Homo sapiens: one gene and its partners. The protein of the gene in region 1 interacts with the protein of each later gene in a biochemical or structural test. Each region holds a gene or a part of one and is shown in the gene's direction. Other genes may lie near its edges.

The links.
Region 2: of the proteins of PLK1 (region 1) and RACGAP1, one has a biochemical effect on the other in vitro, tested with the Homo sapiens proteins (3 studies listed by BioGRID and IntAct, with this or other methods).
Region 3: of the proteins of PLK1 (region 1) and CSN2, one has a biochemical effect on the other in vitro, tested with the Homo sapiens proteins (3 studies listed by BioGRID).

What each region holds. Positions count from the first base shown.
Region 1 is NC_000016.10:23,681,858-23,685,511, forward strand, and holds part of PLK1 (serine/threonine-protein kinase PLK1), read left to right. Parts: intron 1-206; coding exon 207-300; intron 301-2,012; coding exon 2,013-2,232; intron 2,233-3,654. UniProt on the Homo sapiens protein: Serine/threonine-protein kinase that performs several important functions throughout M phase of the cell cycle, including the regulation of centrosome maturation and spindle assembly, the removal of cohesins from chromosome arms, the inactivation of anaphase-promoting complex/cyclosome (APC/C) inhibitors, and the regulation of mitotic exit and cytokinesis.
Region 2 is NC_000012.12:50,015,452-50,019,105, reverse strand, and holds part of RACGAP1 (rac GTPase-activating protein 1), read left to right. Parts: intron 1-516; exon of another isoform or gene 517-554; coding exon of another isoform or gene 555-590; intron 591-2,386; coding exon of another isoform or gene 2,387-2,390; coding exon 2,391-2,475; intron 2,476-3,654.
Region 3 is NC_000004.12:69,963,604-69,967,357, reverse strand, and holds the start of CSN2 (beta-casein isoform 1 precursor), read left to right. Parts: upstream 1-1,629; 5' UTR 1,630-1,677; intron 1,678-3,754. UniProt on the Homo sapiens protein: Important role in determination of the surface properties of the casein micelles.

The sequences.
Region 1 (3,654 bases):
ACCATGTGTATTCTGCTGAGGGCTTATTCTAGCCAATGTCATGGCTTCTGGGGCTGCTCAGTGGACTTAGGGATTGTCTTCAGGGGCCCCAGAGTTAGAGTGAGTGTCCAGAGGATGCCTGACCTTTGTTCTGACCCTGAGATGATTTCTCTCATGTCTGGGTTGTGGCTGGGAGACTGGTGCCAAATCCTACCTTGTGCTTACAGGTATACCTTGTTAGTGGGCAAACCACCTTTTGAGACTTCTTGCCTAAAAGAGACCTACCTCCGGATCAAGAAGAATGAATACAGTATTCCCAAGGTGACTAATGATGCTTTAAGTTTACATTTATTTTGTTTTCCCCAGAAGCTGTTTATGGAGCCCAGCAATATCCTAGGACCAGAAATAGGTCTATCCCACCTCTAAGGTAGCCACAGAGCTTGAGAGGGCCTGTGTCTGAAATTGCATACAGAACTTGACATGTATGTGCACATAAGCATTTTTTCTAGGGGGAGAGAGTTGGCAGATTCTCAAGAGATTGGGTAACCCAAAAGTTGTGTAAAAAGCAAAAAACAAAGGAGGTAGGAAGGAGTAGGAGGCAAAAGTGCTTAATCTTTAGAAATGGTTTATCTTAATTCAAATGGATTCTGCCACTTAGCGAGATCACATTGGGCAAATGGCCTGCATCTTTTTTTTTTTTTTTTTTATTTGAGGTGGAGTTTTGCTCTTGTTGCCCAGTGCAGTGGCATGATCTTGACTCACTGCAACCTCCACCTCCCAGGTTCAAGCGATTCTCCTGCCTCAGCCTCCCAAGTAGCTGGGATTACAGGCACCCACCACCTCGCCTGGCTTTTTTTTTTTTTTTTTGTATTTTTAGTAGAGACGGGGTTTCACCATGTTGGCCAGGCTGGTCTCGAACTCCTGACCTCAGGTGATCCACCCGCCTTGGCCTCCCAAAGTGCTGGGATTACAGGCGTGAGCCACCATACCCAGCCTGGCCTGCATCTTCTGAACCATAGTTTCCATATATAAAGTGGAGTTCCTGCCTTGGAGCACCTCACAGAGTGCCTTGCATGTGGTGAGTGCTCTCAGAATTATGAATCACTGTGAATCCCAGGGCTTCCTAATGGCATAGTTGTGTGCATTTTCTTTTTTTTTTTTTTTTTTTTTTTGAGATGGAGTCTCGCTCTGTCGCCCAGGCTGGAATGCAGTGGTACAATCTCGGCTCACTGCAAGCTCTGCCTCCCAGGTTCATGGCATTCTCCCGCCTCAGCCTCCTGAGTAGCTGGAACTACAGGCACCAGCCACCATGCCCGGCTTCTTTTTTCTGTATTTGTGGTAGAGACAGGGTTTGACCGTGTTAGCCAGGATGGTCTCGATCTCCTGACCTTGTGATCCACCTGCTTCGGACTCCCTAAGTGCTGAGATTACAGGCGTGAGCCACCGCGCCCGGCCATGGTGTGCATTTTCACAACCACCAACAGAAATACATTTAAAGGAATAGCTGGTTCCTGCAGAAGCCTAGCACACAGCCAGTTTGAAGTGTAGTGTCCTTGTGTGAAGCCAGGAGGCCTGTCACCATAAGGACAGACATAGTAAATCCATCACAAAGTGTCAGTTCACTGTCAGAGACAGCATGGAATCAAGCCAGCTAGACAAGGCCTTCACCCTCTCTGTGCCTCACTTTCCTCCTCTGTGAAAAAGGGATGATAATAGATCCCCACCCCTTAGATGAGTTGGTGAGGGCTAAGTGAGCTAAACACAGGAGTGCTTAGAATGCTTTCCTGGCACATAGTGAGTGCTAGGAAAGTGAGTTGGTGTTCGGCCACAGTCCATTGACCCTTCTGTCAATGGTGCTCAGTAAAGCTGACAGTGGAGAACTTGGCATTGAACCAAGTTGTGAACCACTGACCTGTGGTGTATTTGAGACTGGGGGCTGCATGTGGGCTGGGGACCTGCAGCTCCTTTGAGGCCGTACTGTACTCCAGGTCCCCTTCACATTCTGCTTATGGCTGTCCCTCTCTCTGCCCCAGCACATCAACCCCGTGGCCGCCTCCCTCATCCAGAAGATGCTTCAGACAGATCCCACTGCCCGCCCAACCATTAACGAGCTGCTTAATGACGAGTTCTTTACTTCTGGCTATATCCCTGCCCGTCTCCCCATCACCTGCCTGACCATTCCACCAAGGTTTTCGATTGCTCCCAGCAGCCTGGACCCCAGCAACCGGAAGCCCCTCACAGTCCTCAATAAAGGTACAACAAGGGTCTGGGTAAGAGAGCAGACCCCCCAGAGAAAGCCCAGGTTGTAGGGGTGTGTGCAGCTTAGTCCCTGGCCCTGAGAGCTCAGGTGTGGAGTAGGACAGGCCTCTGTCCTTCAATCCGTGGTTCCAATGCCCATCTGCTTCTCGGCCCTGCCAGGAAAGACTGACCTTACCATGGCTGGATAAACGTACCATGCCCAAGAAGAAGAAAATGGATTGAATGCCAAGCCTGAAAAATTCTTTCAAATCACTTTAATTAATTTAATTTTTTGGAGACAGGGTCTCTCCTCTATTTTCCAGGTTGGAGTGCAGAGGCACAATCACAGCTCACTGCAGCTTTCAACTCTAGGGCTCAATTGATCCTCCCATCTCAGCCTCCCAAGTAGCTGGGACTGTCAGGCATGCACCACCATGCCTGGCTGACTTTTCTAATTTTTGTAGAGACAGTGTTTTGCCATGTTGCCCAGGCTGGTCTTGGAACTCCTGGGCTCAAGCGATCCTTTCACCTCCACCAAAGTGTTGGGATGACAGGCATGAGCTGCTACATCTGGCCTTTAAAAAAATTTCTAACACTTTTTCATGATTCATTGAAAAACATAAAAATTTCCTTTTTTTTGTGGCGTGATCCCGGCTCACTGCAAGCTCTGCCTCCCGGGTTCACGCCGTTCTCCTGCCTCAGCCTCCTGAGTAGCTGGGACTACAGGCGCCCACCACCATGCCCGGCTGTTTTTTTGTATCTTTTAGTAGAGACGGGGTTTCACTGTGTTAGCCAGGATGGTCTCAATCTCCTGACCTCGTGATCCGCCTGCCTCGGCCTCCCAAAGGGCTGAGATTACAGGCGTGAACCACCAGGCCCGGCCTTTTTTTTTTTTTTTTTTTTTTTTTTTTTTTTTTTTTTTTTTGAGACAGGGTCTGGCTCTGTCTCCTAGGCTGGAGGGGAGTGGTATGATCTCGATTTCACTAAGGATACATAGTTTTAAAAAGTCACTTGAAATACTTTTTTTCTCTGTGGATATATCACCAATTTGATGTACAACTTCAGTTCATTTTTCAGTTTTCAATTTTTAGGTATTGGTTTTTCTTAAACTTCATTTTGGAATAATTTTAGGCTTATACAGAAAAGTTGCAACAACAACAAAAAACTCCCCAGAGTTCCTACATACCTTGCAGCAATTATTACAGTGGAATTTTTTTTGAGACAGGTCTCAGGACTTGCTGTCACCCAGGCTGGAATGCAGTGGCTCACTCATAGCTTACTGCAGCCCCAACATCCTGGGCTCAAACAGTCCCCCTGCCTTACCCTCCAGAGTAGCTAGGACTACAGGCATGTGCCACCATACCCAGCTAATTAAAAAATTTTTTTCTTTGGGAGGCCGAGGTGGGTGGATTGCCCGAGCTCAGGAGTTCGAGATCA
Region 2 (3,654 bases), on another chromosome or scaffold:
ATTCTGAAGTTTGGAACTGAGCGACTGAGAGAATGATAAAAATAGGGAAATCAAAATTGGAAGTCAGTAGGGTATGGGATAGGGTAGGTCAGTGAGTAGCGTAGTTGATGGACATGAACAGGAAGAGTAGAACAGTGTCAGGAGGCTGAGGCCGGAGAATCACTTGAACCTGGGAAGCAGAGGTTGCAGTCAGCTGAGGTGGCGCCAGTGGACTCTGGCCTGGGGGACAGAGCAAGATTCTGTCTCAAAAAATTAAAAAAAAAAAAATGGACAAGAGAACAGGTTATATTGTAATTTAAGACTTAAAACCCCCCCTAAAAAAGCTTTTTTTTAAACAACCAGTTTTCAACATCCTAGCACCATGAAATTTTCCTTTTTGAATTCTTGGACAGATAGAAGTTTTGCCGTGGTATTGAGCTGTCTTATAGTCTCACGATATATAAGTGAATGCCGAGATGATAGAAAGTAATACCTTATATTAAAACTACTGATTAGAGTCTTCCATTTTTACCTCAGGAGAGCCAAAGGAAATCAACATTTGAATTGACTACCCAATGTCCTGCCCCTGTTTCTGTCCTGTAGCACTTAGGGTATGTTGCCTATTTCATTATATGTTAAATCCATGGCATCTCCATGAATTCCACAGCTCTTCCTGCCGGTTTTAATGCTATCCTTTTAGTTTTGTTCTTAGTTTAGAGAAAGATCTTTGTAATAAATTTGTTGGTCTGGTTGCTTAGCAGCTTGCTGTGATTATGTAGCTTGGAACAGATACTTGCCGTTTGAAAATCTTGGTTTCCGGCCCTGATTCAGGTATATGTTGCATCCAGGCTTGGAACTGAGAACTTTTTTTCTATTATAGCAATTATCATATGAGTATAAATGTATAATTCTGCAGCATTTAATATATAAAATATCTTCATGTTTATATATTCTTTTTTTTTTTTTTTTGAGACAGAGTCTTACTCTGGCACCCAGACTGGAGTGCAGTGGCACCATCTTAGCTTACTACAACCTCTGCCTCCCAGGTTCAAGCGATCCTCCTGCCTCAGCCTCCCAAGTAGCTGGAATTACAGGCACACATAACTGTGCCCAGCTAATTTTTGTGTTTTTAGAAGAGACGGGGTTTTGCCATGTTGGCTCAGGCTAGTCTCGAACTCCTGACCTCAAGTGATCCGCCCGCCTGGGCCTCCCAAAGTGCTGGGATTACAGGCGTGAGCTGCCGTGCCCAGCCTATGTTCATATATTCTTTGTCCTTTGTGCTTTTTTATATATTTTTTCTTGCTCTCATAGCTTGTGGTGCAATCTTGTAAACATTGCAAAATCACTAACCCTTCATAAGAGTTCTTAAAATTTTATTTAGGAAATAAGGACCTGGACTAGAATGTTGAAGCATTGGTTAAGAGAAACACAAGAATCCTTTAATGGTATTTCTGAGGACATTAAATTTCTAATAAAATTTGACTTTTTATTTCATTTCCTTGATAGTTTTCATAACATCCAGTTAATGTCTTTCTTTCTTGACTGTTAAGTGAAGATCTTATTTCCTCAAAGTGTTCCCAGTTAAAGTCTATTTGGAATAGAACCGCCTGTAACGACACTGTTTTTTCTATAGTATCAGCAGGCCTTTGAGGGGAAATACAAAGTCTGAAATTCACTATACAGGACACAGTAGCAAATGATTTTTGCTTTGCCCTTCGAACTGTGAAGGTGCTGTATTGTCTCTCTGATGCCAGAATGTGGTACAACATAATCCTTTGCCTCTACTTAGTATAAATTTATTAGACGTAGTTCCTGCACGCAGCCCAGCAGAGAGCCCTGTATTACAGAAATAATTCTTGTGCTGCTGAGCTGGCGATTTTCCCACTTAATCACTCATGTGACGTCATCTGTGCTTTTGGTAGGAAATGTGCTGACCATGTCCTGCATTTTAAAAGGCAGTTGCAACAGGGGCATTAGCTAAAAATGAAATTAAAAATAGATATTTTAAGTTACATTGTAGGTCTTCAAAGCCCACAAGGAATAAACTGGCAAAATTATTATATTAATCAATAGGCTTGACTTGAAGAACCACATTTTCTTGTTGGTCAGTCACTTGCTAATGAACTGACATGCTCTTTCCTATTTGTTTTCTGCTCCAAGTGATTGGAGGGGCTGTTATATTCAAAGGTCTGAAATGGTTTTCTAATTTTCAGATGAGTCTTAAACATTCCAAGTTTGTTTTTATAATAAGAATCACACAAAACATCTGTTGTTAGCTTGAGATTCTTATAATGGTAGTTATAAATGGAAGAGTCCAGATGTTGGTCACTAATGGCTGGATTGCTATAGAATCTTTTGTTGTGGGCGAGAAGGCAGGACCCCTAATGTATATTTGATTTCTTGGCAGAAAGATGGATACTATGATGCTGAATGTGCGGAATCTGTTTGAGCAGCTTGTGCGCCGGGTGGAGATTCTCAGTGAAGGAAATGAAGTCCGTAAGTCATTCTGAGCTGGCCTGTCCAAAGGAAAAACAGATTTCAAATTTGGGATTTTTACAAAGCTGAAGTATTTTCCAATCTTAAAGTTGTTTTCCATTTGGGTTACCTAAAAAGAAAGCAGTGATCACTTACGTGGTCAAAGCCTAATGGGCACTCATTCTAAATGGTCACTAAAATTCTTTTCTATAGCTGCTCTTAATAGGTTTTAGCCAGGCTTTTTTATTATCTTTATTTATTTATTTTTTTGAGATGGAGTCTCTCTCTGTCACCCAGGCTGGAGTGCAGTGGCGACATCTCGGCTCACTGCAACCTCTGCTCCCCGGGTTCAAGCGATTCCTTGTCTCAGCCTCTCGAGTAGCAGGGATTACAGACACACGCCACCACGCCCGGCTAATTTTTTGTATTTTTAGTAGAGACGGGATTTTGCCATGTTGCACAGGCTATTCTTGAACTTCTGACCTCAGGTGATCCGCCCGCCTCGGCCTCCCAAAGTGCTGGGATTACAGGCGTGAGCCACCGTGCCCGGCTGCTTTTTTATTATCAAGATTCTTTTTCCACTGAATAGTTGGCACTATTTTCTGTGCCATGAACTGGGAAAAATTTACTAGGATGTTGCTTTTTTCTTTAGAGTAGTAGTTGTCTTTTTTTTATCCTGGATTTTCTTTGTGTTCTATAAAGCATTTTCAGTTGAAGTGGGAAAAATTCATAATTTCTTCTTTTTTCTTTTTTTTTAAGAATCTCATTCTGTCACCCAGGTTGCGCCACCATGCCCAGCTACTTTAAAAAAAATTTTTTTTTAAATTTTTTTAATTTTTTTTTTATTTTTGAGATGGAGTCTTGCACTGTCACCCAGGCTGGAGTGCAGTGGTGCGATCTCGGCTCACTGCAAGCTCCGCCTCCTGGGTTCACGCCATTCTCCTGCCTCAGCCTCCTGAGTAGCTGGGACTACAGGCGCCCGCCACCACGTCCGGCTAATTTTTTTGTATTTTCAGTAGAGACGGGGTTTCGCTGTGTTAGCCAGGATGGTCTCGATCTCCTGACCTCGTGATCTGCCCGCCTCGGCCTCCCAAAGTGCTGGGATTACAGGCGTGAGCCACTGCGCCTGGCCTTAAAAATTTTTTGTAGAGATAAGGTCTCCCTATTTTACCCAGGCTAGTGTCCAACTCCTGGCCTCAA
Region 3 (3,754 bases), on another chromosome or scaffold:
TTTCATATTTTGATTTATAACATGGCTAACTTTTCAGTCACTCAGGCATAATATATTAATTCATTTCCCCAATTTTTCACATTTCTCGTATTTTAATGAGAAGTTTGTCTTTTTATTGCCTAAGATGCCCAGGACCATTTCCCTACTTGAGATCATCATAATGTCTGTCTTAGGCTACTGCAATAACATAACATAACAACTTCCTTTACTAGGTTACCTGATTTGTTGTCATAAAGTCATGAAATCCAAGAAATTTTACAATCCATTTTTCTTTCAAATCTCTAATATATTTGCTTCCACTGAATTATGTCACAGTGCATGCCTGACATTCACAGTCATCCATGATCTGATTCTATCAAACCTCTGCAATTGTAACTTGCAATGTATGCCCTCTGAATATCCTCAAACTGGTATGTTGCTCTTTCAGTTCCTGTGTTTTCTTCAGCCAAAATATCTATCCCCATTTAATCATCTCGCAAAATTCTACTCATTCTCTAAGGCTCAACTAAAAGAGCAGTTCCTTAATGGCAAGCTCCCCTGCCACACACAGCACAGAGGCCCTACTTTTCCAATTCAGGCATAATTAAATTGTACATATTTCAACCAAATGCTACATTGATAGATAAATTTTATAAAAAATTATCAGAAGGTTAAAACATGGGCTCTGAGACTCACATGTGATCAAACAGAATCACATGTAGTCAGACAGATCTGAGTCCAACTGGTATCTTTGCCATTAACAATATGGTTTTGAGCAAGTTACTTAACCTTTTGGCATCTCTGTTTTCTCAACCTAAATATGAAGAGGAGAGCTACCTCATGATGTTCTTGTGCAGATTATACAAGATAATATCTTTGCTTAGTGCTTGGCAAAGGGTTAGAACTAAGCAAAAAAACCCATCATTAATATTATCATAATTATGCTTGACCTGAAAAGAGATAATCAATATTAAAAGGTAAATAAAACTCCGTGATACTTTGCAAAATTTTTATTACAGATTTACTGAAGATTTTGCCTATACCAGCCACCCAGATTCCCTCTTCAAGTTATTCCATTACAGAGGAAAGTTTATTTATCTTGTGTACAAAATATTTGTTTTAACTAAATTATTTTTTTTTCCAAATCAAGTGGCCCTGGGAGAAACAGTTTGCCTCACATAACTAAGCTACCATCATGGACTTGTTATCTTGTCAGTTTCTTCATTTCAGCATAAAGCACTAACAACTGCTTAGGTTCACATGAAACTGTGGCCTTTGTGAAGCCCTGTGTATATCTAGCGTTCACATACAATTTTCCCACAACTGAAATCTCAAGGCCCCACTAGGCCCTAAAGAGACCTAATTATGTCCATAATAACTTGGGGACAGGGCCAGAGTATCACTGTCCTCCAGTCATTGTCTTTTGTTATTGAATAATTGCATTTCCTGGACAGGTTTCTTTTATCAACTTGTGAATTGTTCCCTTGTTATAATGATGCCCAGAATTTCTGGGGATATGTAATAGGCAGAAATCATTTTCTAATCATGTGGACTTCTTGGAATTAAAGCTCGCTATTGATCTTATTTCAAATCACAAAATTAGTGTGTCATTAAATATAGTATATAAACAGTCACAGAAGCTGATGGACCATCATCCATCCAGCACTACCTTCACTTCTCTTCAATCTTGGAAAAACGGTAAGAATTTTAGATACAAATTTGTTGTATCTTCTCCTAACCATGTATTTCAAAGTAGCTTGAGCTATAGAAGGAACGTAGTTACTTAAAATATAGTGTTTGAAATAAAAGTATTTAAGGTAGTACTGAGATTATTTTTAACACTTAGGCTAAAAAAGATAGAAGTGCCCAGAAGAATTTGGTAATGACATATAGCCTTCATGAGTTTAAGAAAATATAATAGCTAATTTTATGCATATATATATATATATATATATATATATATATATATAGTATGAGGCTAGTTCATAGTTAATATTAAAAGGAGATTCATTTTTTTAATTAATCTTCCAATTTGATTTAGCATATCACAGTTATAAAAAGAATTATACTTCAATTATAGTATGGGTAGATAAATAATTACTGGAAAAGCTTTGTCCAGCAGGTAGTTTACAGCAGTAGCATACTGAGTTGAGAAATGGAGGGAATGGTATGGGGGCATTTACTACTTTAAATGTTTATAAACAATGTTTTTAGAAGAGTTTACTCATCAAACTTGTCTAGAGCCTCAAACTTCCCAGTTTATTATCTAGTTTGTAATATTTCAAAACAATATTAAAATGAGACAGAAATACAGAATTAAGTAAAAAAGAAACAATGTGGTTTACTTTGTAAGAAAATTCTTAATGGGGTAGAAAAGACTTGGAAACCATAAACAAAGATAATAGATGATATAAAAGAAAAAGTAGCTTAGAGTGTACCAGTTGATAATGAAGCTCTGGCTTAAAAATTAGTATATAAAAGTATACCAGTATGTAGTATATTTATAGTATAGAAATGAGTATAAAAACTAGTATAATTAGTATTAGTATATATTAGTATATTAGTATATAAATTAGCATTGTAATTATACATTCGTATATAAAATTATTATATATATTAGTAGATTAGTAATAAAACTAGTAAAGTTTATATTACTTATAAAATATAGAAAATGCTGTGGGATCTTCCCTATGTGTAATTATATATAATAGAGTGTTATATTCTGTTTCTGAACCCTGACATAAAAATTTGGGAACTTATAGTGGTCTTAGGCAAAGTAAAATTAATAAAAACTTAATTAACATTCATAAAAAATCTAGAAAAAATATTTGTTTTCTGTAATAGAATTATGTTCAACCTTCAAATATTGAAAAGAACATCTCTCAAATAAATTAAAGACTTTTTTGATGAAGTATTTTAGTTCAAAAATTTAGTTCAAAAATTGAGTTTCAATATCTGAGAATGAAGATTTGAGTGGTGAGTAATATTGTGGCACAAACATTATTTTGAAATAAATTACAAAAAAATGTAAGAACACATAACAAGGAGATGATTTAGTATATTTTGGTCAAAAATATTAACATATATTTCACAAGAAGAGGTAGTCCCAAGCTTAGCAGTGGGCAAGAGGCTCTGACCCCTTGGCGGATCATCAAGAGAATCGTGTGTACATTTCAATAAAGAGAAGAGAAGAAGCCTAGTGTACAATATCTAAAGTCATGTGGCATAAAGGAGAACAGACATTATTAGCTATGTGGGGAAGATGAATATAAACGGAGAAGAAACAAACTCAATAGTCCAATAAAGTCTCTGGATAGTGACACAAATAAGGAAAGTGTTAAAATGAAAACCTCAGTCTTATTGGAAATGAGGAGAAATAAACTAAAATAGTCATGGTAACCGTTTAGTGAAAAGAAAAAAGGTAAAAATAAAATGTGACTTTTTTGTACACATTTTCTTGATCAGTCTCTTCCAGTAGAACTGAGGCTCCATGAGGGAGTAATATCAGGACTGTAATATTTTGTTCATTGCTGCGGTCCTGGTCCCTAGACAGTGTCTGGCAAGAACAGATTCTAAAGAAATATTTTTAAGTTAATGAATAAATCTTTTTTTAAATTTTATTTGTCTTTTGAAATTATTATTATTATACTTTAAGTTTTAGGGTACATGTGCACAAAGTGCAGGTTTGTTACATATGTATACATGTGCCATGTTGGTGTGCTGCACCCATTAACACGTCATTTAACATTAGGTATATCTCCTAATGCTATCCCTC